4 linked regions of the Homo sapiens genome follow. The protein of the gene in region 1 purifies or fractionates together with the protein of each later gene. This does not show direct contact. Each region holds a gene or a part of one and is shown in the gene's direction. Other genes may lie near its edges. The genes, in order: ADGRG5, ACVR1B, LCLAT1 and GJA1.

Region 1 (7,043 bases):
AAGGCTACACCCTGACCTGTGTCTTCTGGAAGGAGGGAGCCAGGAAACAGCCCTGGGGGGGCTGGAGCCCTGAGGGCTGTCGTACAGAGCAGCCCTCCCACTCTCAGGTGCTCTGCCGCTGCAACCACCTCACCTACTTTGCTGTTCTCATGGTATGTATGCATCCTGAGTGGGGCTCAGAGCTACAGAGGGCCCTGTGTCTGTGGCAGAGGAGCAAGGCAAAAGCTGGTGCAAGGGACAGAAAGTCCAACTGAAATGGGCTTAAGCAAAAAACAAAAAAAACTTTATGGACTCATGTTTCTGGAAAGGCTGGGTTAGGCTTCAGGCATGGCTTGATCCACGGGCTGATCACTAAGATCACTAAGATAGCACTCTATCTTTGTCCCTCAACTGTGCTTGCTCTGTGCTGGCTTAGCCCTCAAATAGGATCTCCTTATGAGATAATAATATAGCTGGCAGCAGTTCCAGGCTCATGCCCTGCTAGCTTTCAGGCCAGTGGAATAAAATCTTCTTTTACCCAGTTCTGCCAGCCATGTGCTCATCCCTGACCCAATCGCTATAGGCAGAAGGAGGGAGGGCCCTGCTTGACCAGGCCTGGCACCCCTTTCTGCACAAAGAGGGCAAAGTGGTGGAACCCCACAGGTGCATAGGGAGTGGGAGAAGGGAGGCACTCATAGAAGAAGAGGGAGATGGGAGATGTGGAGGGGGCAAAACTGACTGTATCTGCCATGGCCTTGTTCAAGCCAGGTCCATGGCTAGGCTTGTGGGGAAGGGGACTTGGAGAGGAGGCCTCAGGAGGTCCCTCTGACTGAGGCTGGGAGGAAGGGCGATACTATGCTTCTGGCCTCCAGCCCCTCTTCCCTCCTGCAGCAACTCTCCCCAGCCCTGGTCCCTGCAGAGTTGCTGGCACCTCTTACGTACATCTCCCTCGTGGGCTGCAGCATCTCCATCGTGGCCTCGCTGATCACAGTCCTGCTGCACTTCCATTTCAGGTATTCCGCTGCCACAGTGCTGGGCCTGCCCTGCACTGTGGCACATCACGCTTCCTTGTGTCCCATTTAGTCCACTAGAACTGGGTGTGCTTCTCCAGAGGGTGGGGACCAGGAGGCGGGAGACCAGCCTTGTGGTGCGACTGCTGTGGGATCCCTGCCCCTTCTTCGCCTCAGTTTCCCTGTCGGCATGCACCTATGCACCCAGTGGGTAGTGCTGCCTGGGTGATGTCCCTGGGCCATGGAGGACCATTCTCTCACCTGCAGGAAGCAGAGTGACTCCTTAACACGCATCCACATGAACCTGCATGCCTCCGTGCTGCTCCTGAACATCGCCTTCCTGCTGAGCCCCGCATTCGCAATGTCTCCTGTGCCCGGGTCAGCATGCACGGCTCTGGCCGCTGCCCTGCACTACGCGCTGCTCAGCTGCCTCACCTGGATGGCCATCGAGGGCTTCAACCTCTACCTCCTCCTCGGGCGTGTCTACAACATCTACATCCGCAGATATGTGTTCAAGCTTGGTGTGCTAGGCTGGGGTAAGCACATCATCTCTCCTCGCCTCCTCAGACTTCCAGGTGGGCAGGGTATTGATCCCCTTTAGTCCTTTCTTTCCCCTCCTCCTCATCGTCATAGTGGCCATTACATGACCACCAGCTGTGAACTCTGTCTACACCCACCTCTACTTTCTATGTTACTAATTTTATCACCTCTTCCACCTCCATCATCATCATCGTCACCTCCTCCACCACCATTATCACCTCCTCCACCTTCATTATCACCATCACCTCCTCCACCTCCTCCACCACCATTATCACCTCCTCCACCTTCATTATCACCATCACCTCCTCCACCTCCATCACCACCATCATCATCTCATCCACCTCTGTTATCGCCATCACCTCCTCCACCTTCATCACCACCATCGTCACCTCCTCCACGTACATCACCACCTTCTTCACCACCATGATCACCTCCTCCACCTCCATCACCACCTCCTCCACCATCATCACCATCATCATCACCTCCTCCACCTCCACCACCTCTTCCACCTCCTTCACCACCACCATCATCTCCTTCACCTCCACCACCACCTCCTCCACCTCCATCACCTCCATCATCACCTCCTCAACCTCCATCATCACCTCTTCCACCTCCATCACCTCCATCACCACCACCTCCACCTCTGTCACCTCCATCACTACCTCCTCCACCTCCATCACCTCCATCACCACCTCCTCCACCTCCATCACCTCCATCACCACCTCCTCCACCATCATCACCTCCATCACCACCTCCTCCACCTCTATCACCTCCGTGATCACCTCCTCCACCTCCGTCATCACCATCATCACCTGCTCCATCTCCTCCACCTCTATCACCACCATCATCACCTCCTCCACCTTCATCATCACCATCACCTCCTCCACCTCCATCACCACCATCACCATCTCCTCCACCTCCGTTATCGCCATCACCTCCTCCACCTTCATCACCACCATCATCACCTCCTCCACGTACATCACCACCTTCTTCACCACCATGATCACCTCCTCCACCTCCATCACCACCTCCTCCACCTTCATCACCATCGTCATCACCTCCTCCACCTCCACCACCTCCTCCACTTCCTTCACCACCACCATCATCTCCTTCACCTCCACCACCACCTCCTCCACCTCCATCACCTCCATCATCACCTCCTCCACCTCCATCATCATCACCTCCACCTCCATCATCTCCATCACCACCACCTCCACCTCCATCACCTCCATCACCACCTCCTCCACCTCCATCAACTCCATCACCACCTCCTCCACCTCTATCACCTCCATGATCACCTCCTCCACTTCCGTCATCACTATCATCACCTGCTCCATCTCCTCCACCTCTATCACCACCATCATCACCTCCTCCACCTCCATCATCACCATCACTTCCTCCATCTCCTCCACCTCTATCATCACCATTATCACCTCCTCTACCTCCATCATCACCATCGCCTCCTCCATCTCCTCCACCTCTATCATCGCCATCATCACCTCCTCCACCTTCATCATCACCATCATCACCTCCTCCATCTCCTCCACCTCTGTCACCACCATCATCACCTCCTCCACCTCTATCACCATCGTCATCACATCCTCCATCTCCTCCACCTCTGTCATCACCATCGTCACCTCCTCCACCTCCATCATCACCATCACCTCCTCCATCTCCTCCACCTCTATCATCATCATTACCTCCTCCACGTCTATCATCACCGTCACCTCCTCCATCTTCTCCACCTCTGTCATCACCATCATCTCCTCCACCTGCACTATCACCATCATCACCTCCATCTCCTCCACCTCCATCAGCACCATCATCACCTCCTCTACCTCCATTACCGCCTTCATTTTCTCTACCTCCTTCACCACCATCACCACCTACTCCACCTCCATCTCCACCATCATCACTTCCTCCACCTTCTCTATCTCCAGCAGCACCATCACTGGTACCTTCATCACCGTCCTTGCCCCTTTCTTGCTTATTTCTATTTCCTCAGCAGTTCCCCAGTCCTCCCTCCCATTTGCTCCCCACCACCACCTTCCCAGTGTGACCACTCCTCCCTCCACCACTGTTCCATCGTAGAGCCGTCACTAACATCATCTTGGAGGAGAGCTTCCTCCAAACCACCAGGCTCATTGCTCTGAAGTTGGGGGCTCACAACAGTCTCCTCTCAGTTGTCCCTTGACCAGTGAAATTCTGTGTCAGCAGCCCCAGGGACCGCCCCAGGGACCGAGGGTCAGCCCTCTCCCACATCTCCTGAGCCTTTGTCCCACCCCTCAGGGGCCCCAGCCCTCCTGGTGCTGCTTTCCCTCTCTGTCAAGAGCTCGGTATACGGACCCTGCACAATCCCCGTCTTCGACAGCTGGGAGAATGGCACAGGCTTCCAGAACATGTCCATGTGAGTGCCCTCAGGGCTGCAGTGGGCTCCCTGGCTCTGGCAGAAGGGCCACATGGGCCTGGGGCTCCAAATGGAATATCCTGTAGGCAAAGCACTGGCTGTGGGGCAGAGAGGGAGCTGGGGCTTAGACAGGGGAGTTTGCAGGGGGCTCCACCACATCCCTTCCATGGATCCAGGTCTCCTGCAGAGGCAGCCTTGTGTTCTATGCTGGTGAAGTCTACGAAGCCAGCGTCTGCTCGCCAACCTGCCAGGGCAGCCGGGCCTCCCGCCTCCTCTGTCCTGCCCTGCCCTCCAGTGCCCAGGCCCTGAGGGTCTGGCTCAGCCTGCACTTGACTCTGTTCCCCTGCAGACCACCTTGCTGCACCTACCCAGGCTCCAACTCCTCCCGACCTGCCCTGGGCACTGCCAGGCCTCTCAAGTCCTCCTAGTCGGACAAGAGTGCTGTGGGGGCTGGGCTTGGGGGAGACAAAGAGAGGCAGCGAGGTGGGCCTTTAGGGGCCGGGGGACACGCTGCTGCTTTTTTTTTAATAGCCCCTCCCTGCAGGCGAGGACGTTAAGCTTTTTATTATTATGCAACATTTCTAATAGCCAGACATAGACTAGCCTAAGGAACCCCCGCGCGCCCATCACTCACTTGCAGTTGGCTGTGGAACCTTTTTCCTTCTTGGCTGATGCAGGCTCAGGATGGGGGCTGATTCTGTGGCAGGCCTTGGGTATCAGCTGGCTTCGTTTTCACAAGGGCAAGGGCCGGGTCCTGTTGCCAGCCCTATTTTACAGTTAGGGCACCTGAGAAACAGGCAGCTTAAGAACTCTACCTGAGGAGCCCTAGCCAGTCAGTGGCAGAGCTGGGGCTTGGTCTCCGGCAGGCTGGTCCAGAGCCTGGCCCCCAGCCCCTGAAGCAGGGCCGGGGGACTGCGTGCTACATAGGTGGGGCTGATCCCTCTCACATTGAGGCTCGGGTGTATCAGAGGACATGTGACTTCAATTTACATGAATTGTTCTCTGCAATCTCCATGACAACCCATAAGGCAAGTACATAATCATCCCCAACCTACAGATGAGGAAATAGAGGCTCTGGCCTCAGTTTACATACTCTCTGAAGATGTATTTTCTTTTTTTTCTTTTTTTTTTTTTTTTGAGATGGAGTTTCGCTCTTGTTGCCCAGGCTGGAGTGCAATGGTGTGATCTCGGCTCACTGCAACCTCTGCCTCCTGGGTTCAAGCGATTCTCCTGTGAGTAGCTGGGATTACAGGCGCGTGCCACCACGCTCAGTTAATTTTTGTATTTTTAGTAGAGACAGAGTTTCAGCATGTTGGCCAGACTGGTCTCAACTTCTGACCTCAGGTGATCCGTCTGCCTTGACCTCCCAAAGTGCTGGGATTACAGGCGTGAACACTATGCCCAGCCTATTTTCTTATATAATAATATGATGAGGACAAAGGAGCTTTAGTGACACGTCCACAGGACCCACTAATGCACAGATGTTAGAGAACACCCACCTACGAGCCAGCTTCTCCCTGGGTCTTCCTCACTCTGCCCTCTCCTCTCAGGAAACAATTACCTTGGGGTTTGTGACTTTTTTTTTTTTTAATTTAAAACATCTCTTACTATGTATATACACATTCCTAAACCCAAACATCAGTTAAAAACCAAAAACAGGCCAGGCGTGGTGGCTCACGCCTGTAATCCCAGCACTTTGAGAGGCTGAGGTAGGCAGATCATGAGGTCAGGAGATCAAGACCATCCTGGCTAACACAGTGAAACCCCGTCTCTATTAAAAATACAAAAAATTAGCTGGGCGTGGTGGCAGGCACCTGTAGTCCCAGTTACTCGGGAGGCTGAGGCAGGAGAATGGCGTGAACCTGGGAGGTGGAGCTTGCAGTGAGCTGAGATCGCCACTGCACTCCAGCCTGGGCGACAGCGAGACTCTGACTCAAACAAACAAACAAATAAAAAACACATCCTGGCCAACATGGAGAAATCCCATCTTTACTAAAAATACAAAAATTAGCCAGACATGGTAGCGGGTGCCTGTAATCCCAGCTACTCAGGAGGCTGAGTCAGGAGAATCGCTTGAACCCGGGAGGTGGAGATTGCAGTGAGCCGAGATTGCGGCACTGCACTCCAGCCTGGAGACAGAGCGAGACTCCGTCTCAAAAAACAAAACAAAACAAATACAACCCTTGAAAATCATTCAGATGTCCACTGACGGGATGCTGGATGAATGGACTGCAGTAGAGCTGCCCCCGTGGGGATATTCCCTAGCGGTGAAAGTGAGTGGTCGCCTACCACACTCATCAACTTGGAGGAATCCCAAAATAATGTCCTGGGACCCTTGTGACTGTAGGGGCAGGAGCCACAAAGTGAACCTCAGCAGGGGATTGTGACAGTTAGGGGCTCAGGCTCTGGGCCTGGGGCTTCAGGATCCAGCTTTGCCTCTAACTGGACTGTGTTCCTGAGCTAGAGCCTGAGTTTCCTCATCTGCAGGATGAGGACGATTATGTACTTGCCTTATGGGTTGTCATGGGGATTGCAGGGGACAAGTCACATAAAGCACATCGTTACTGGTGGAGGGTGTCCAGGTTCTTGGCGTCTTGAACCAAGAATTGGACAAGCCTGGGCATGGTGGCTCGTGCCTGTAATCCCAGGACTTTGGAAGGCCGAGGCAGGTGGATCAACTGAGGTCAGGAGTTCGAGATCAACCTGGACAACACGGTGAAACCCTGTCTTTACTAAAAATACACAAAAATTAGCTGGGCGTGGTGTCAGGATTCTGTAGTTCCAGCTACTCAGGAGGCTGAGAGAGGAGAATTGCTTGAACCTGGGAGGCGGAGGTTGCAGTGAGCCAAGATCACATCACTGCACTCCAGCCTGGTGACAGAGACTCCCTCTCAAAAAAAAAAAAAAAAAAAGGAAAGAGTGAGGCATGAATTAAGCAAGAAAAGCAGAGATTGATTGAAAATGAAAGTACACGCTACAGTGTGGGAGTGGGCCAGAGCATAGGGCCTCAAGAGCCCTATTACAGAATTTGTGGAGATTTAAATATGCTCTAGAGGTTTCCATTGGTTACTTGATGTACACCCTCTGTAAATGAGGAGGATGAAGTA
Region 2 (7,661 bases), on another chromosome or scaffold:
ACCAAGTAGCTGGGATTATAGGTGCCCACCACCATGCCCAGCTAATTTTTGTATTTTTAGGGGTTTTGCCATGTTGGCCAGCTGGTCTTGAACTCCTGACCTCAGGTGATCCACCTGCGTTGGCCTCGCAAAGTGCTGGGATTACAGGCGTGAGCCACTGCGCCCAGCCAAGGAACTAATTTTCTTTTTCCCAAACCTGCCCATTCTAGTCTGCTGAATGAAACTACCAGGCAGCTAGTCACCTAAGATTATCCTAGAGTCATATGGGGCCATCCCCTTTCCTCATTTCCCGTATCCAATCAATCTTGTCATTTCTACGTCTTTGAACTCTTGAATCTGTTTCTCTTTTCCACCTTCACATTGCTGCTGCCTGGGGTCAGGTCCACCTCCTATCTTGCCTGGGCTTTGCCTTCTCTTTGGTTTCCTTACAACCAGTCTTGTCTTCCTCCAACCAGCCTCTGTACAAAGTTCAAATTCACTTGGTTCAGCAAAGTGATCTTCCTAACACAATATGATCAGTTTACAAATATGATCAGTTTAGCCTTTCCTAAAATACAAACATGATCAATTTACACTTAGAACCCTTCCAAGTGTACTGAAGAGGGTCTCTTATTAGACTCCCACTCCAGTGTGCTCCATTTCCAAGTAGACTTCCACGTCTGCCTAGCTCACCAACATTACGTTTCCACTGTCCATCATCTTCAGCCTGCATCTTCTGGGTGTACCGCTAGGCTGCTCACGGTTCTCCTAAATGCCAGGCAGAACAGTCTCCTGCCATCTCCTGCCCTCCTGACACAGGCCTATCTGGGGGGACTCTCTGATCTTCCAAGAATCAGCGTAGCCTGTCTCTTCGTGAAAACTTTCTCAACTCCTCAGCCTGTCCCCTCACAGCTGAATCATTCATGTCCCCTGAGTGGCCCTCATTGGCTCTTTACAGGCTTGTGTCCTCGCAGAGATAACCCGTTGTTGCTCTTTTTCTCATGCTTTTCTGTATTAGATTTTAAGTTCCATGAAGGCGAGGACTATGACTTATCCATGTCTATATGTTGTGCCTGGTGTACTGTAGGTGCTTAGTGCTTGTGGAATGGATGAGTGAAGATGAACTATTGCCTTCTTGGGATGAATGACCCTGCTGCTCACCAAGGCAAATGATCCCCTAGGTAGTGGTGTCTCTGTGCGTTGCGACCAATGTGGCAATTGTCACACTGAGTTGTCACTCTAGTCAGTGGGACTAAGGAGTAAGACTTTTTCCTGGAGAAGTGGCTCCTGCTAGCTCTGGGGACTCTCCTGACAAAGAGACAGGGCAGAGGGGAAAAGAAGTTCATAGACTGTGATGTGGGTCCAGCCCTAAGATTAAGACGGTTTACAAGGCCAGGCACGGTGGCTCACGCCTGTAATCCCAACACTTTGGGAGGCCGAGGCAGGCAGATTACGAGATCAGGAGTTCGAGACCAGCCTGACCAATGTGGTGAAACCCTGTCTCTACTAAAAATACAAAAATTAGCCAGGCATGGTGGCGCATGCCTGTAGTCCCAGCTACTTGGGAGGCTGAGGCAGAAGAATCGCTTGAACCCAGGAGGCGGAGGTTGCAGTGAGCCGAGATCATGCCACTGTACTCCAGCCTGGGAGACAGAGCGAGACACCGTCTCAAAAAAGAAAAAAAAAGAAAAAGAAAAAGAAAAAAAAGAAGGCTTACGAAAATGGACACTTACCGGGGCCTTCAGGGATGGTGAGGAGAACTAGCAGGAAGCATCCTTGGGCCAGGCTGTGGGAAGGAGCGAAGGGCACAGGTAGGGATTAGGCAGTCTCTATGTAGCGCGGGACCTAAAAGGAAGGTAGACACATCACCTAGGAAAGCTCTAGTTTGGAGATGCCCCAAACTCTCACAAATGGGGTGTGAGGCATATGATTAACCCCTCCCCTGCTCCACCTCATTTTCCACCTTCAGCTGGGTCCTGAAGACCAGTACCTAGAAAAGCAGGAGATGCTATGGTGTTGAAGAAAGCACAGGACCAGTAGGCTGTGGCTTTAATGATGGATTGTATGTGAGCCTTGGCAAATCGCTTACCTTCTCTAAGTCTCAGTCACTTCATCGGGGCACACTCTGACATGCCTCAACCACTTCCTAGGATTGTAGTGAAGGTCAACTCATAATGATGATAATAGCTATTCTTTTTAGATCACTTCCTATGTGTCAGAGATTATGCTAAATGCTTTACCATATTTTATCAATACTAACAATATCTGTATGACATAGAACTATTATTAGCTCCATTTTACAAGATGAGTAAATTGAGGTTTAGGGAGGTAAAGTATCTTGCCCAAAGTTCAATGCTGTCAAGTGAGCTGATGGAGCTGACGGAGGTGGCATTTGGTCTGTGGAGCCAGCATTCTGGTTCCCTGATCTGTATATTTAGCTGTGTGGCTGACTTTACTGTCTAGGAGTGAAGCAACCACAGGTCCCCTCTGGGACCCCTGGCCTCGAAGCCACAGTGGCAGCACTTAGCAAGAAATAAGGAAAGATACCTCCCTCCCCCCTGGCTTCAGATATGTGCTCCTGAGGGGTTGGCTTTCCCTTCTTAACTGCAGGGGTTGGTGACTGTACTGGGTTGAATAGTGTCCACCCAAAATTCGTGTCTACCAGGAACCTGCGAATGTAATCTTACTTGGAACGAGGATCTTAGCAGCAGATGTAACCAATTAAGATCATTTGCACTCATACTGGATTAGGGTGGGCCCTAATCCAATGACTGGTATCCTTATAAGAAGAGAGGAATGTGGACAGAGATGTAGATGCAGAGGGAAGATAACCATGTGAAGACATGGGGTTATGCTTCCGCAAACCAAACAACACCAAGGATCCTGGGAACCACCAGAAGCTAGAAGAGGCAAGGAAGGATTCTTCCCTAGAGCCTTCAGAGAGCACATGGCCCTGCCAACACCATGGTTTCAGATTTCTAGCCTCCAGAACAGTGAGAGAATACATTTGTATTTTAAGCTACCCAGTTTGGTAGTAGGAAACTAACACAGTAACCTAGCACTGTGTGCACCACAGCTTGGTGGATAGAGCATGGATTGGAAACCACTTAGACGGACTGGGTGGGGTGTGCCTATTTGGGGGAGATGAGGGAGAGGAGAATAAGTTATTTACTCATCCAGCTACACTGACCAACTTGTAGACAATGCCTCCCCATGACTTTATGTGATTGTGTGTACACTGTGTCTGGCGAGTGTGTCTTCAGCTTTATTTTTTCCGGATATGACGATGGGAGTTCTTCAGGTTGGTGAAACTTAGAAGGTGAGAATTCCATTTAAGCAACTGTTCTCCCTATCTCTTGGCCATCCTTTCCACCCCTAGATCTCAGATGGTGAAGCTGTGCTTAGAGAGGTTCAAACCTTGCCCAAGTTTTCACAGCTAGTTAGTAGGAAGCAGAATTCAGATCCAGAATTCTCTGGCTGCAAAAATTCTGCCCTTTCCTTTATATCAAGTTCTTTCTCAAGCTAAAGAAACTGACCTCTTTTCAGAAAGATACGGAGTGATTTGTTTACTTTCTTAAGCATTTCTTCTAGATTTGAAAGTAACATTTATTTGAAAAATATTTAGAAATTATTGAAATGTTAAAAGTAAAAAAATTATGGCAATAACTACTGTTACTATTGGGTAAATATCCTTCCAGTCTTTTTTTCCTATAAACACATATTATCAGTACAATTTGAATAATACTGTAAACAGTGTTGCATTTTGCTTTTTTAATTTAACATTATCTTGTAAGCATTTTCTCATGTCAATAGTTTTTGTAAACAGGATTTTAAATTACTAAATAATGTTCCATCATATGGATGGGCCATAATTTAACATTTTCTATTATTGTCTACTTAGTTTCTACCTTTTTTACAATGATAAATATACAGTTAACATTTTTCATAAACATCTGTCCTCTTATTATTTCTTGAGGACAGGGGACAATACTGGGTAAATGGATATGAAGATTTTAAGGCATTTGATGCATAATGCCAATTGTTTACCAAAAGGGTTCTACCTACCAGCCCAATCAGAGTGCCTCACACGGCACCCTCACCCATACTGTCATCAATAAAGAGCTTTGCTATGTTCTGAAAAGGCGCGTGCCGCGATTCCATCACACAGGCTGCCGCGTCCAGAGGATGGCAGGGGGCGAGGCGAGGCAGGGAAACCAGTTAGGAGACCGCGGCGATGATCCCAGGGGACGCGCTGGGGGCTTGAGGCTAGGCGCAGGGATGGAGGAACTGGAACACGCACGGGATTCGTAGAATATTCGACGGGGGCGGGGGATCGACTCTGATAAGATAATTCTGCACTGCGTGGGGTGCAGGAGAGGGAGGAGACTGCACGTTCGGCTCCGGCCTCCTCCGCGCCGGGCTCGGCACCGATCCGCGAAGTTGGCCGAGGCGTGAGCCCCGCCCACCCCTTTAACAGGGACACTCCCCTTTAAGGCGGGCGCCCGCGCGCGCCCCGGCCCCGCCCTTCGGGGGCGCGCGCGGCGGCCGCGGCGCCGGCTCCGCCGGGAGCGCACGTGCAGGCGCCGGGCGGAGGAGAGGGAGGCGGGAGCCGGGCCGCGGGAGGAGGGGAGGCGCCGGGGGCGCGCGCGCGCGCGCTGGGCGCTGCTGGGCTGCGGCGGCGGCGGCGGCGGCGGTGGTTACTATGGCGGAGTCGGCCGGAGCCTCCTCCTTCTTCCCCCTTGTTGTCCTCCTGCTCGCCGGCAGCGGCGGGTCCGGGCCCCGGGGGGTCCAGGGTGAGTCCTGGGACGGGGGGCGGGGGCCGGGATGGAGAGGGCCCGGCAAGGGCGAGGCCTCGAGCCGCGGCCGCTGGACTACAGCGCGCCCCCTCCCCACGAGCACAATATGGCCGGGTGGGGGGCGCAGAGGAGTCGGGGTGACCCCCAGTCAGCTTCCCCGATCTCCGAGGCGCAGCCGCCCGGCGGCGACGGAGCTCACGCCGGGCCCCTGGGGACCCGAGCCCTGTTCCAGGCGGAACTGGATTCGGGCAGTTCTCAGGGGTCGCGCTCCCAGCGCCCTCGTGTTCCAGAGAGGGGAGTCTGAGCCTCCAGCTCCAAGATTTGGAGGTCCGTGGTTTCTGCCCTTCACCGTGTCCAGGGGCGGGGGGCTTTCTTCCCTCCCTCCAGGTGCTCCTGGGGGGCGTCTTTCTCCCGCCAAGACTGTGGGGTTCGGGCGGTGGGGTCTTAGCCTCTCCGAGGGAACCTGATGTTGAGAGTCCGCGCACCTCAGACTGTAGGGGAAGGGGTCTCTAACCTTTCCTTCAGGTCCTGCACTTGGCGTGTTTCTTCCCCTCCCTCCACTGCCTCCCTAATGTTCTGGGAAAGGGAGTCACATTTCCCCTTCACTCAATCCCTTGAGTTCAGTGGGGCAATCCCCCCTCCGCCCTCCGGCACTCATGCCCCGTGGAGGCTATTTGGAGGAAGTGGGACGAACAGGCCCCTAAACCTTTTTGGAGCCTGGCTTTGGAATCCCTAACCCTATGGAACCGAGTTCCCCAAGGGTTGATGTGAATCTAGGTGTATTTGCTTTCCTCCTCGCCTCCCCCACCCTACCCCGGGGGGCCCATTCAGTTAATCACTTTGTGGATGCCTTTCAGGTGAAATCCTGGAACCTGTCTCCAAACCCCCAAGATTATTTAAAGATCCCACCACTGGACTGTATTCCCGGCCCTTGGTCAGTACTTATTTACCTTCCTACACGATGCCTCTTCCCAGCCCGCCCACCCTCACACACCCCTTACCTCCCAATCCCCACAGTCTGCGGCTCGCCTTATACCACCCCCCCACTCTCCTCTCTGTAGAAGCGGGTACCTTTTTGCGGGACACTTCGCTGGCTGTGTTGTTTTTGAGGCTTTGGGGGCTGAGAAGAGCAGATGAAACCCTAAAATATTTCATTTAAGAGAGTCTTGGCGAATGTGTTTTGGCCTTGGGGTAGCAGATGAAGGTTATATTTGGCAGTTATATTGAAGCGATTATTGACCCACAGATGGATCTGGGAGAGATGATCAGGATTGTATTCGCTCCTGACGTACAAAGCCTGATGCTTTGACTTCTCAGCAGCCCCTAACCTTCCAGCAATGGGAGATAAAGTGTGTTCTGTGGCTCTCTTCTCTTACACTAAAAATAATGATTCTCAGGTGGGTTCAGTCGTCTTTAATAAACCAGACAGTCAAGAAAAGACACCATGCCACTTTGGAATCTCAAAAACAAGTTCATTATCTCCGGCTTTGATATTTGTTCCCAGTGGTGGAGCCTGTGCAGCGGGGTCTTTGTTCACGGGCTAATGCTTCTCCTAAGCACCTCGTGTGTGTTCTTCGGCCTCACTGCTCTGTGGCTTAGGTATCTGTGCTGTGGGGTTTGAGAAACATGGTGAAGGTGTATGAACAGAGCTTGACATTTGTGGTGAGATAATGATTTGCATGAATAAGGATGTTCGTCGGGCCTTATTAAGGGCCATGTTTTTGGAATGTGTAACATAATGTTCTCTACTGGGTAGTAAAAAAAAAAAAAAAGGGAGATTGAACCTCTAGGTTTGTCATTTTATGTGTGTATGTATAAATCTTTAAATCCTCATATAGGAATTTTTATCCTGCCCCTAATATATCCAGGATTTTTAACAGTCATTTCCCTGCTGATTTGATGTAGTGTTTGTGGGGTTTTTCTGGTTGTGAGCCTAGTTAAGAATGTTTGATAATCCAAGTGGTTCTGAATGGGGCAGAGTTCATTTTTTTGTAACCTTCCTAAAATGGATGTTTGTGGGGGTTAAGGTGGGTGAGTAAAATAGGGAGTTCGTTTCTTTTTTTGGTAAATTGGAAATTAGGTTGTGTGTCCAGCAAACATTCTCCAGGGCCTTTAAACTTCTTGGCCAGACACTACAGTTTTTTCCAGGACACGTCTAGTTGCCAATAGTGTATGCTATGGAGACCACTGCTGCAAAGGGCTTAAAGTAAAACGTCAGTTCTGGGAAAATAGAGGCTGTGGGATAACAAGAAGTTGATTTTTTTCCCCTCCCCTGCATTTCCTATATAGTGCTCCCCTACGTGGGCTGGAGGAGTGACAGAGCCAGACAGCTCTGATGCCTGATACTTGGACTTGATGTGAGGGGCAGTAAGGGATAGGTGTTTCTATTAATTAATGAATTAACTAGGACTTAGTAAAAGGCCAGTGATAAGGAGAATGAGTTTCAGTTAGAAATAGCATCCGTTTGATAGGTGTACATGTTTTAAGGCCTGGCTTTGGAATTTTCACATTTAAAAATGTAAAATTGAGTTAGTAGCAGGAGAACATGACATTCATTTCTCAAGACAAAAGCAACAAGAGAGATATTTGACATTCTCATAGGAACATTTTGAAATTTTGTGAGCGGACTAAAAATCTAATTTCAAGCCAAGCCTTGTAATTTTGTTGAGTGGACATGGATTTTAAGTACAGTGGAAGTGCAGTCTTGTAGAGACCTCTGATTAGTTTTGTTTAAACAGCTCCTGGAACAGATGTGATAAAACATATTAAAATGGCTACTCTGGTTAAAGGTTAAAGCCAGATGGAGGGAGGAGGCTGGTTTTCAGCCCTAGAACTTAGCTGCCTTACAAGTTGTCCTTGAACAAGTAACTTAACCTTTCTGTGACT
Region 3 (7,043 bases), on another chromosome or scaffold:
ACCATCTTGGGAGTTCTAAGAACAAACACCTGCCAGTAACAGTAAGATAAGAAAGACATAAGGCTATCTCACTAAGTTTGTATAAATTCTAAAATTCAGAATAAGTTTTGTATGAGGTATTAAAAATTTAGTTTATAATTGTAACATCTTTATTTTATAGGCTATTTAAAAATAGGTGTATATTTAACTACAGATGTAATACATGGCTTGAAAAGGAAGCGTAGTGTAACATTTCAGACTGAGTGTGGACTCTGACACCAAGTTACCTGGCTTAAAGTTCCAGTTTTGTTATTTACTAGCTGTGTAGCCTTAAGTAAGTTCCTTAACCCCTTGCTGCCTCAGTATCGTTATATGTAAAATTAAGGTAATGAAAATACCTACATTATGAGATTGCTGTGACTGGTGAACAGGTCGGCATGTAAAATATATGAAACAGTGCCTGAAATATTTTAAAAGCTATATACATTTTAGGTGTTACTATAGTTGAAATAATCCAGAAAATTAGAATTCCCCGTATTATAAGAGAATAGTAAATATTGTCAGATTTTTATATACATAGCATAATTTTTTAAAAATTTATTTAAAAATCTACAAACAGTAAAGTTCACTTTTTTAAAAAATATACTTTCTATGGATTTTCACAAATGTGTATAGTCTTGTGACTGTCAGAGATGTGTGAACTGGAACAAATCCATCTTAAATAGGAGCTGGGTAAAATGAGGCTGAAACCTACTGGGCTACATTTTCAGACAGTTAAGGCATTCTGAGTCACAGGATGAGATAGGAGGTCACCACAAAATTCGGGTCATAAAGACCTTGCTGATAAAACAGGTTGCAGTTAAGGAGCTGGCCAAAACCCACCAAAACCAAGATGGCGACAAGAGTGACCTTTGGTGGTCCTCACTGCTACACTTCCACCAGCACCATGACAGTTTACAAATGCCAGGGCAATGTCAAGAAGTTACCCTATAAGGTCTAAAAAGGGAATGCATGAATAATCCATCCCTTGTTTAGCATATCATCAAGAAATAACCATAAAAATGGGCAACCAGCAGCCCTCAGGGCTGCTCTGTCTGTGGAGTAGCCATTCTTTTATTCCTTTACTTTCTTAATAAACTTGGTTTCAGGTTGCACCGTGGACTCACCCTGAATTCTTTCTTGGGCGAGATCCAAGAACTCTCTTTTGGGGTCTGGATCAGGACAGCTTTGCTGTAATGTGACCTAACTAGGAAATAGAACAGTTTCCTCAACCCCCTAAACTACTTCTTCTTTTTTTTTTTTTTTTTTTTTTTTTTTTTTTTTTGAGAGGGAGTCTCACTCTGTCACCAGGCTGGAGTGCAGTGGCACCATCTTGGCTCACTGCAACCTCTGACTCCAGGTTCAAGCGATTCTTCTACCTCACCCTCCCTAGTAACTGGGATTACAGGCACGCGCCACCATGCCCAGCTAATTTTTGTATTTTTAGTAGAGATGGGGTTTCCTCATGTTGGCCAGGATGGTCTCGATCTCCTGACCTCGTGATCTGCTCCCCTTGGCCTCCCAAAATGCTGGGATTACAGGCATGAGCCACCGCTGGACCAACCCCCTAAACTTATATTGTGTTGTTTCTTTGTAGTCAAACCATCTCCCTACTTGTAATCTTTGCCAACCGCTGATCTGTTTCCTTATCCTTTGGGTTTGCCTTGTCTGGAATGTCATATAAATGAAATAATCCAGTAAAAGATTTTAAAATCATATCTTTTGAGTCTGGCCTCTTTCATTCAGCATAATACATTTGAGATTAACTCAACATGTTGCATGGATCAGTAGTTTGTCGTTATTCTGAGTAGTATGCCATTGTGTGGATGTACTACGGTTTTGTTTATCCATTCTCCCTGACTGACATTTGGCTGGTTTCCAGTTTTTGGTAATTATGAATAATGCTGCTGTGAATAATTACGTATAGGTTTTTGTGTGAATATACATTTTCATTTGTCTTGGATATTCAGTAGAATTTCTGGGTTTTATTGTAAGTGTATATTTAGGATTTTAAGAAACTACCAAACTTTTCCAAAGTGGCCATCCCATTTTGCATTCCCACCAGCAATGTTTGCAAGTTCTGGTTGCTGCATATCCTTGTCAGCTCCTGGTATTGTCAGTGGTTTTATTGTTTTAAAATTTTTTTTTTTAGCTATTCCAAATAAGTGTATAGCTAGCATAATTTGGAACCAAGTTTGTCCATCAAACTCTTGAGACTTGGAAGAAGATAAAGAATAGGGCTGGATTAAATGCAGAGTCACATAGGAGCTCATAAGGAAGAGATGGAGAGACCATCAGATTTGTGAGAGCTTTGCAATTTCTGTCATATTCACTGTTGTAATCCCCAGATGACTAACATAGTGCCTGGCACACGGTAATTGGGATATCTTTGTATGTTTATTGAATCATTGAAAATCAACAAATGATTGAAAGGGAAGGAATAGAAGTAGGATAGAAGTAATTTTAGATTAGATTTGGTCTGAGTAATCCCAGTATATTCATGTGACACACACCTTTCTACCTGCTTAAGTCTGAGTTTAGAGACATATTTCAGGGCTAATTTCTGGCCCCTTCGCAGGAGAAAGAGAGCATGATATAGCAGAAGAAGCAGTAAGCAGAAAAGATTTGATGCTACTAATTTGTTGTGTGGATTTAGGAAAGTCTTCTTAACTCTCCTGAGCCTCAGCTTCATCACTGCATAATGAAAATATTTTATTATATGATAGCTAATTTATTTTTTTTCTGTTAATCACATCAAATCAGAAATTGGTGAGGAAGAAGCATGCCAGAGCCTTGATAAGGGAAGCATTATATATGGATACAACGTGAAGTGTAGCTCTGCAGGGAGTTGAGGGGTGAGTGTTAAACAGAGCTAGCTAATCACTAATTGGCAGAAAAAAAAACAGTAGATAGAAAACGGTAGTTACAGGGTTTCAAACAGAGCAGCAGCGTTGCAGGACTGGGGGGCGGGGTGGGTGTATAAAAGGAAGTAGGCATTAACAATACCAAATTAAGATGTTCGTAGGTTTTTTTTTTTTTTCTGGGGAGAAGCTAGCTATAGTGTCATCAACGCAAAGAGGAGGACCTGAGCCTCAGAGAAAACAAAGTTGAGGATAGGTGGTAACACAGACCACTCTAGGCCCCATGTGTGAGCTCTGGGAATTGTTCAGCATGCTGCTTTCCAGTGGCCTTTTTCTCTACCATTATTACTCCGTTACCCCACTTCTTTAAAGTTTAGGTCTAGAGTTTAGCAAAAAGCCAGCTCTTAGTTGATATTTATTCAGTTTGTACTTTGAAGGATTTTGTACACGTACTGTCAAGTATCAGTAGAAATTTAAAAATAGTCGGCTGGGCACAGTGGCTTACGCCTGTAATCCCAGCATTTTGGGAGGCTGAGGCGAGCAGATCATGAGGTCAAGAGAACCAGACCACCCTGGCCAACATGGTGAAACCGTGTCTTTACTAAAAATACAAAAATCAGATGAGTGTGGTGGCGCGTGTCTGTAATCCTGGCTACTCCGGAGGCTGAGGCAGGAGAATCGCTTGAACCCGGGAGGCAGAGCTTGCAGTGAGCCCAGATCGCACCACTGTACTTCAGCCTAGCGACAGAGTGAGACGCAATCTCAAAACAAACAAACAAACAAAAACTTAGTAGTCAGTCTTGATTGTGTGTTTTAAGGGATTTGACCTGTTTTGTTGTTTGTCTGTCTGACATTTTTCAAAAGCACCATGACGTTTGAAAATGTATTCTGTTTCCTGTTGTGATTCTTTTAAAATATTCAGAGGTCTTGATCTCTCAGATACCTTTTTGCTATATAGATTATAAGGCTGTTTTTTTTTCATCGTTTTAATGTTTCTAAAAATTTTATTCTGAGGCAAAACACAGTTTTTCTCTAACATAGTTTAGGTTGTAAAATCAAATGTTTATTCATTTTAGACTGTGTGTTTCCAACAAGCATTTATTTTAAAACATCTGTATGATGTTCTGGCTATGAGGACCCCCTACAGTAATCCTTTGGAAATAGCCAGTGAAGAGTCTAAGTTCTACTTAATCCTTCAACTCATAAAGAGTCAATTAAAGACCAAGTACCCAAGATGTTATTTTCAGATTCTAATATAAAGAATTAATATTTCTGGATTTTAAAAAATTTCAATGTACTCTGCTAACTTGTCATTGTTTTTAGGTGTATAGTAGTCCCCTCCTTAACCACAGTTTTGCTTTCCATGGTTTGAGTTACCCACAGTCAACTGTGGTTTGAATGTTATATGGAAAATTCCAGAAATAAACAACTGATGGGTTTTAAATTTGTGTGCCATTCTGAGTAGCAGGATGAAATCTGATGCCATGCCTCTCTCGTCGCATCCAGGACGTGAATTATCCCTTTGTCCAGTGCATTGATACAATATATGCTATGCTACCTGCCTCTTAGTCCCTTAATAGCAGTTTCGGTGATCAGATTGACTGTCGAGGTATAGCAGTGCTTGTGTTCAAGGAACCTTTATTTTACTTAATACTTTATTAATAATAGTTATTAATCTCTCACCACGCCTAATTTGTAAGTTAAACTTTATCATGGTATGTATGTAATGTATATGTAGGGTTTAGTACTATCTGTGATTCAGGCATCTACTGGGGGTCTTGGAATGGATCCAAAGTGGGGACCGTTGTACTCAACTTAGGAAACTCATCTGTAGTTTTTAGTCAATTGCTTCTACTTCTGGGTAGGAAAAAACTCTGGAATATTTTATGAGTTTGTGTTAGATAACACCTTAGAAAAGAAAATATATGGTTTTATGTTAAAAAAAAAAGGCTTCTTAAACTAGATAACTCTTTTTGGAGGTCAGATATTTGCTCTGTTGAGAGTATCAGTTTCTTTTTTTTTGAAACTGTCTCATTCTGTCGTCCCAGCTGGAGTGCAGTGGTGCGATCTTGGCTCACTGTAACATCTACCTCAGCCTCCCACGTAGCTGGGATTACAGGCACACTACCGCAGCTGGCTAAGTTTTGTATTTTTAGTAGAGATGGGGTTTCACCATGTTGGCCAGGCTGGTCTCGAACTCCTGGCCTCAAGTGATCCACCTGCTTCAGCCTCCTAAAGTGCTGGGATTGCAGCGTGAGTCGCCGCACCCGACCAGAGAATATCAATTTCTAATGTACTGGCAACTTGTTAGACCAGTAGAGCATGTAGGAGGGTCACCTCTTTGAAATTCAGACTCTTATATTGTTTCTTAGAGCCTTTCTGTAGCCCTAAAATTAGTGATCATTCTATGCTCCATCATCCTGAAATTGAATTCGAGCCGTTAAATGTATAGTAACAAAATATATCCTTTTTTATATCTTTCAGAATCATGGTGTCATGGAAAGGGATTTACTTTATACTGACTCTGTTTTGGGGAAGCTTTTTTGGAAGCATTTTCATGCTGAGTCCCTTTTTACCTTTGATGTTTGTAAACCCATCTTGGTATCGCTGGATCAACAACCGCCTTGTGGCAACATGGCTCACCCTACCTGTGGTAAGTTACACACCAGAGGAGACTGTCTGCTTGTACTAGAGTGCTCCCCACCCCTGATAGATACCTAAATCCATGGATGTTCAAGTCCCTACAGTATTTGCACATATCCTAGGCACATCCTTCTGTATGCTTTAAATAATCTCTAGATTGCTTATAATACCGACTACAACGTAAATGCTATGTAAATAGTTGTTATTGTTAGGGAATTGTATTGCTTAGGGAATGACAGGGAAAAAAAATCTGTGCATCCTCAGTACAGGCTTAGCCATCCTTTTTTCCCATGAATATATTTGATCCATGATTGGTTGAATTCACAAATGCTGAACGCAGGGATGTGGAGGGCTGCATGTATTTTGCTGTGTTCCATTGGGCTTCTTAGATAGATAGGTTGGTTGGTTTTTATATTTTTTTAACTGGGAAATTTTAGACTGTTATTTTTTTCACATTTTTTTCTGCCTTATTCTCTCTCTCCTCATTTTGGGACTACAATTATATGTATGTTAGATTGATTGTCTTGTCACGTATGTCACAAAGGCTCTCTTCCTTTTTTCTTCCCCTGTATTTTTTCCCTGTATTTTTCATATTGAATGATTTCTGTTTATCTGTTTTCAAGCTCAATGACCCTTTCTTCTATCATCTTTAATCTGCTGTTTTGTTCATCTAGTGAATTTTTATTTAAAATACTGTAAGTTCTGGAATTTATTTTGGGTTCTTTATTGGTTCTGTTACTTTCTTGAGATTTCTCATCTATTTATTAATTATAGCCATATTTTCCTTTAAGTCAGCTGGATGATGTCTAGTACCTTTTACTCTGTCAGGGCCAGTCTTTTAGGCAAAATTTCTTCTTGCTTTTTTAATATAAGTATGCTTTGTTTTGTGATTGGATTGCAAGAGTAGTTGGCAGGATCTCTTAATGTTCATCCAGCAATTTTTTATTGTCTACCACGTACCTAGCATTTTGCTAGGATGCAGTGATGAACAGGACAGATATGATCTCTGTCCTTGAGGAGATAATAGTCCTCTACCTAAAATATCTTATCCTAATTGTAGATTTACAGAGCTTGACTAATTTCTTTTCTGGCTTTCATGTGACTAAAAGTCTTTTTCTTTTTTTAGAGGACAGAAGTTGACTTCTAAGACTATTAATTTTTAGAGTTACATTTTTAAATTAGCTTTAAAGATATGAAGCCCAGTGTTTCATTGCAACCCTAAACATACCATTTGCCATAAAATACTCATTTTTTGTTGCTGCTTAACCACTATCACTCTCTATTTACAAGGTGGGTATTTCTCTATATACATATATTAAGTAAAATAAGAATACTGTTCAGTTTATGTAATATTAATCATCACAAGTAGATACTTCTAAAACGTCATCTACAAACTGTATGTTAAGTAATTTTGCTGTCATCATAAAATCAGAGACATTTCCTATTGAAACATTTGACTGTTTTCATGTCATTTATGTAACTATTTTTAGTGTTTGTTTCATCATCTGTAAAATAAAGAAA
Region 4 (4,582 bases), on another chromosome or scaffold:
TTTTTAATAAGGCTGTGAGTAGTATTGAGACAAAATGAACTTTTTACATGAAGTGTGATGTGTATTTAGTCTTTGTTTTTCAAAGTAGGTTACTACATATAATGACACATTGTAGCAAAAGAGTATATTTCCATACAGCCTACTTTTTCTCTGGACAGAAGGCTGACTTCTGAGCTACATAAGTCACTGCTTAAGAAAAAAATAGTCACCATTGCTTGGGAGGCTAAGGCAGGAGGATTTCTTGAGCCCAGGGGCCTGGGCAACATAGTGAAATCCTATCTCTAAAAAAAGAAACAGAAAAGTGTAAATGACAATAATATAGGGTATGCACAAATTACACTTGATATACCATTGAAAAATCTTCCAGAGGCCAGGCGTGGTGGCTCACACCTGTAATCCCAGCACTTTGGGAGGCTGAGGTAGATGGATCACCTGAGGTCAGGAGTTCGAGACCAGCCTGAGCAACATGGAGAAACCTCATCTCTACTAAAAATACAAAATTAGCCAGGCGTGATGGCACATGCCTGTAATCCCAGCTACTTAGGAGGCTGAGGCAGGAGAATCGCTGGAACCTAAGAGGCGGAAGTTGTGGTGAGCTGAGATTGTGCCATTGCACTCCAGCCTGGGCAACAAGAGGGAAACACCATCTTAAAAAAAAAATCTTTCAGAGTGAAATTAGTAATAAAATGATATATAATAGCATTAAGGTTTTGGAAAGAAGGTTATGGATGTGTGTTTATAGGTATTCTTACCTGGATTCTTGATACCTATGCTTTGAATAACACACATCAGGATTTTGCTTAGCAAACACAGATCTACCAGGCAAAAACTGTCCTCATTTATCAGACAAATAAAAGGAGCAGAGGCTTAGCACAGGTGGCTTCTCAAGTCACACAGCAAGGCAGTGGTTGAGCAAGCAATACACCTTCCCAGGTTAAAGACTGCAACTCATCATCTGTTGCTTCTAAGACTTACTTTGTCTCAACAAACAAAACAAAACACTTGTTAGATCTTTTCTTCGTTGGCAAAAATGGGACAGGAAGAGTTTGCACTTGGTTTTTTGTGAAAGAATGTTAGAAATACGTGAAACCGTTGGTAGTATTTTGACTATCACCTGAAAGGTACTAAATGTTAAACTAGTAATTTGCAATCTGTGATCCTTGAATTGTCTCTTTGTTTCTTTCAGGTGGTGCCCAGGCAACATGGGTGACTGGAGCGCCTTAGGCAAACTCCTTGACAAGGTTCAAGCCTACTCAACTGCTGGAGGGAAGGTGTGGCTGTCAGTACTTTTCATTTTCCGAATCCTGCTGCTGGGGACAGCGGTTGAGTCAGCCTGGGGAGATGAGCAGTCTGCCTTTCGTTGTAACACTCAGCAACCTGGTTGTGAAAATGTCTGCTATGACAAGTCTTTCCCAATCTCTCATGTGCGCTTCTGGGTCCTGCAGATCATATTTGTGTCTGTACCCACACTCTTGTACCTGGCTCATGTGTTCTATGTGATGCGAAAGGAAGAGAAACTGAACAAGAAAGAGGAAGAACTCAAGGTTGCCCAAACTGATGGTGTCAATGTGGACATGCACTTGAAGCAGATTGAGATAAAGAAGTTCAAGTACGGTATTGAAGAGCATGGTAAGGTGAAAATGCGAGGGGGGTTGCTGCGAACCTACATCATCAGTATCCTCTTCAAGTCTATCTTTGAGGTGGCCTTCTTGCTGATCCAGTGGTACATCTATGGATTCAGCTTGAGTGCTGTTTACACTTGCAAAAGAGATCCCTGCCCACATCAGGTGGACTGTTTCCTCTCTCGCCCCACGGAGAAAACCATCTTCATCATCTTCATGCTGGTGGTGTCCTTGGTGTCCCTGGCCTTGAATATCATTGAACTCTTCTATGTTTTCTTCAAGGGCGTTAAGGATCGGGTTAAGGGAAAGAGCGACCCTTACCATGCGACCAGTGGTGCGCTGAGCCCTGCCAAAGACTGTGGGTCTCAAAAATATGCTTATTTCAATGGCTGCTCCTCACCAACCGCTCCCCTCTCGCCTATGTCTCCTCCTGGGTACAAGCTGGTTACTGGCGACAGAAACAATTCTTCTTGCCGCAATTACAACAAGCAAGCAAGTGAGCAAAACTGGGCTAATTACAGTGCAGAACAAAATCGAATGGGGCAGGCGGGAAGCACCATCTCTAACTCCCATGCACAGCCTTTTGATTTCCCCGATGATAACCAGAATTCTAAAAAACTAGCTGCTGGACATGAATTACAGCCACTAGCCATTGTGGACCAGCGACCTTCAAGCAGAGCCAGCAGTCGTGCCAGCAGCAGACCTCGGCCTGATGACCTGGAGATCTAGATACAGGCTTGAAAGCATCAAGATTCCACTCAATTGTGGAGAAGAAAAAAGGTGCTGTAGAAAGTGCACCAGGTGTTAATTTTGATCCGGTGGAGGTGGTACTCAACAGCCTTATTCATGAGGCTTAGAAAACACAAAGACATTAGAATACCTAGGTTCACTGGGGGTGTATGGGGTAGATGGGTGGAGAGGGAGGGGATAAGAGAGGTGCATGTTGGTATTTAAAGTAGTGGATTCAAAGAACTTAGATTATAAATAAGAGTTCCATTAGGTGATACATAGATAAGGGCTTTTTCTCCCCGCAAACACCCCTAAGAATGGTTCTGTGTATGTGAATGAGCGGGTGGTAATTGTGGCTAAATATTTTTGTTTTACCAAGAAACTGAAATAATTCTGGCCAGGAATAAATACTTCCTGAACATCTTAGGTCTTTTCAACAAGAAAAAGACAGAGGATTGTCCTTAAGTCCCTGCTAAAACATTCCATTGTTAAAATTTGCACTTTGAAGGTAAGCTTTCTAGGCCTGACCCTCCAGGTGTCAATGGACTTGTGCTACTATATTTTTTTATTCTTGGTATCAGTTTAAAATTCAGACAAGGCCCACAGAATAAGATTTTCCATGCATTTGCAAATACGTATATTCTTTTTCCATCCACTTGCACAATATCATTACCATCACTTTTTCATCATTCCTCAGCTACTACTCACATTCATTTAATGGTTTCTGTAAACATTTTTAAGACAGTTGGGATGTCACTTAACATTTTTTTTTTGAGCTAAAGTCAGGGAATCAAGCCATGCTTAATATTTAACAATCACTTATATGTGTGTCGAAGAGTTTGTTTTGTTTGTCATGTATTGGTACAAGCAGATACAGTATAAACTCACAAACACAGATTTGAAAATAATGCACATATGGTGTTCAAATTTGAACCTTTCTCATGGATTTTTGTGGTGTGGGCCAATATGGTGTTTACATTATATAATTCCTGCTGTGGCAAGTAAAGCACACTTTTTTTTTCTCCTAAAATGTTTTTCCCTGTGTATCCTATTATGGATACTGGTTTTGTTAATTATGATTCTTTATTTTCTCTCCTTTTTTTAGGATATAGCAGTAATGCTATTACTGAAATGAATTTCCTTTTTCTGAAATGTAATCATTGATGCTTGAATGATAGAATTTTAGTACTGTAAACAGGCTTTAGTCATTAATGTGAGAGACTTAGAAAAAATGCTTAGAGTGGACTATTAAATGTGCCTAAATGAATTTTGCAGTAACTGGTATTCTTGGGTTTTCCTACTTAATACACAGTAATTCAGAACTTGTATTCTATTATGAGTTTAGCAGTCTTTTGGAGTGACCAGCAACTTTGATGTTTGCACTAAGATTTTATTTGGAATGCAAGAGAGGTTGAAAGAGGATTCAGTAGTACACATACAACTAATTTATTTGAACTATATGTTGAAGACATCTACCAGTTTCTCCAAATGCCTTTTTTAAAACTCATCACAGAAGATTGGTGAAAATGCTGAGTATGACACTTTTCTTCTTGCATGCATGTCAGCTACATAAACAGTTTTGTACAATGAAAATTACTAATTTGTTTGACATTCCATGTTAAACTACGGTCATGTTCAGCTTCATTGCATGTAATGTAGACCTAGTCCATCAGATCATGTGTTCTGGAGAGTGTTCTTTATTCAATAAAGTTTTAATTTAGTATAAACATAGCTTCTATATTCCGTGTGATTTGTTTCCCCTGCCGAGATGGAGTCTTGCTCTGTCACCCAGGCTGGAGTGCAGTGGCGCGATCTCGTCTCACTGCAACCCTTGCCTCCCGGGTTCAAGCAATTCTCCTGCCTCACCCTCCCGAATAGCTGGGATTACAGGCACCGCCACCGCACCTGGCTAATTTTTGTATTTTTAGTAGAGATGGGGTTTCACCATGTTGGCCAGGCTGGTCTGGAACTCCTGACCTCGTGATCCGCCCACCTCAGCCTCCCAAAGTGTTGGGATTACAGGGGTGAGCCACCGCACCTGGCCTATATTTAAAACTCATTGACGGCATCTATTTGAGATTATTTAAACACATTTCTATTGGTTATCAGAACTTCAGCAAATAACAGTCATGTTTTCAGGGACAATATTTATCATTAGCTCTGTTCAGTGCAACATAAATTGTAAACATTTTTGGATATTTATTGAACCAAAAGGAAGATAAAGTGTTGAA

What was found.
Region 2: the proteins of ADGRG5 (region 1) and ACVR1B purify together in Homo sapiens (co-immunoprecipitation; 3 studies listed by BioGRID and IntAct, with this or other methods). This does not show direct contact.
Region 3: the proteins of ADGRG5 (region 1) and LCLAT1 purify together in Homo sapiens (co-immunoprecipitation; 3 studies listed by BioGRID and IntAct, with this or other methods). This does not show direct contact.
Region 4: the proteins of ADGRG5 (region 1) and GJA1 purify together in Homo sapiens (co-immunoprecipitation; 3 studies listed by BioGRID and IntAct, with this or other methods). This does not show direct contact.

What each region holds. Positions count from the first base shown.
Region 1 is NC_000016.10:57,566,600-57,573,642, forward strand, and holds part of ADGRG5 (adhesion G-protein coupled receptor G5 isoform 1 precursor), read left to right. Parts: coding exon 1-152; exon of another isoform or gene 153-870; coding exon 871-992; exon of another isoform or gene 993-1,250; intron 1,251-1,256; coding exon 1,257-1,525; intron 1,526-3,818; coding exon 3,819-3,936; exon of another isoform or gene 3,937-4,034; intron 4,035-4,570; exon of another isoform or gene 4,571-4,722; intron 4,723-7,043. UniProt on the Homo sapiens protein: Orphan adhesion G-protein coupled receptor (aGPCR). Ligand binding causes a conformation change that triggers signaling via guanine nucleotide-binding proteins (G proteins) and modulates the activity of downstream effectors, such as adenylate cyclase.
Region 2 is NC_000012.12:51,947,063-51,954,723, forward strand, and holds the start of ACVR1B (activin receptor type-1B isoform a precursor), read left to right. Parts: upstream 1-4,636; 5' UTR 4,637-4,681; coding exon 4,682-4,772; intron 4,773-5,632; exon of another isoform or gene 5,633-5,709; intron 5,710-6,321; exon of another isoform or gene 6,322-6,437; intron 6,438-7,661. UniProt on the Homo sapiens protein: Transmembrane serine/threonine kinase activin type-1 receptor forming an activin receptor complex with activin receptor type-2 (ACVR2A or ACVR2B).
Region 3 is NC_000002.12:30,520,224-30,527,266, forward strand, and holds part of LCLAT1 (lysocardiolipin acyltransferase 1), read left to right. Parts: intron 1-5,363; coding exon of another isoform or gene 5,364-5,367; coding exon 5,368-5,532; intron 5,533-7,043. UniProt on the Homo sapiens protein: Exhibits acyl-CoA:lysocardiolipin acyltransferase (ALCAT) activity; catalyzes the reacylation of lyso-cardiolipin to cardiolipin (CL), a key step in CL remodeling.
Region 4 is NC_000006.12:121,445,646-121,450,227, forward strand, and holds the end of GJA1 (gap junction alpha-1 protein), read left to right. Parts: intron 1-1,186; 5' UTR 1,187-1,202; coding exon 1,203-2,351; 3' UTR 2,352-4,082; downstream 4,083-4,582. UniProt on the Homo sapiens protein: Gap junction protein that acts as a regulator of bladder capacity. A gap junction consists of a cluster of closely packed pairs of transmembrane channels, the connexons, through which materials of low MW diffuse from one cell to a neighboring cell.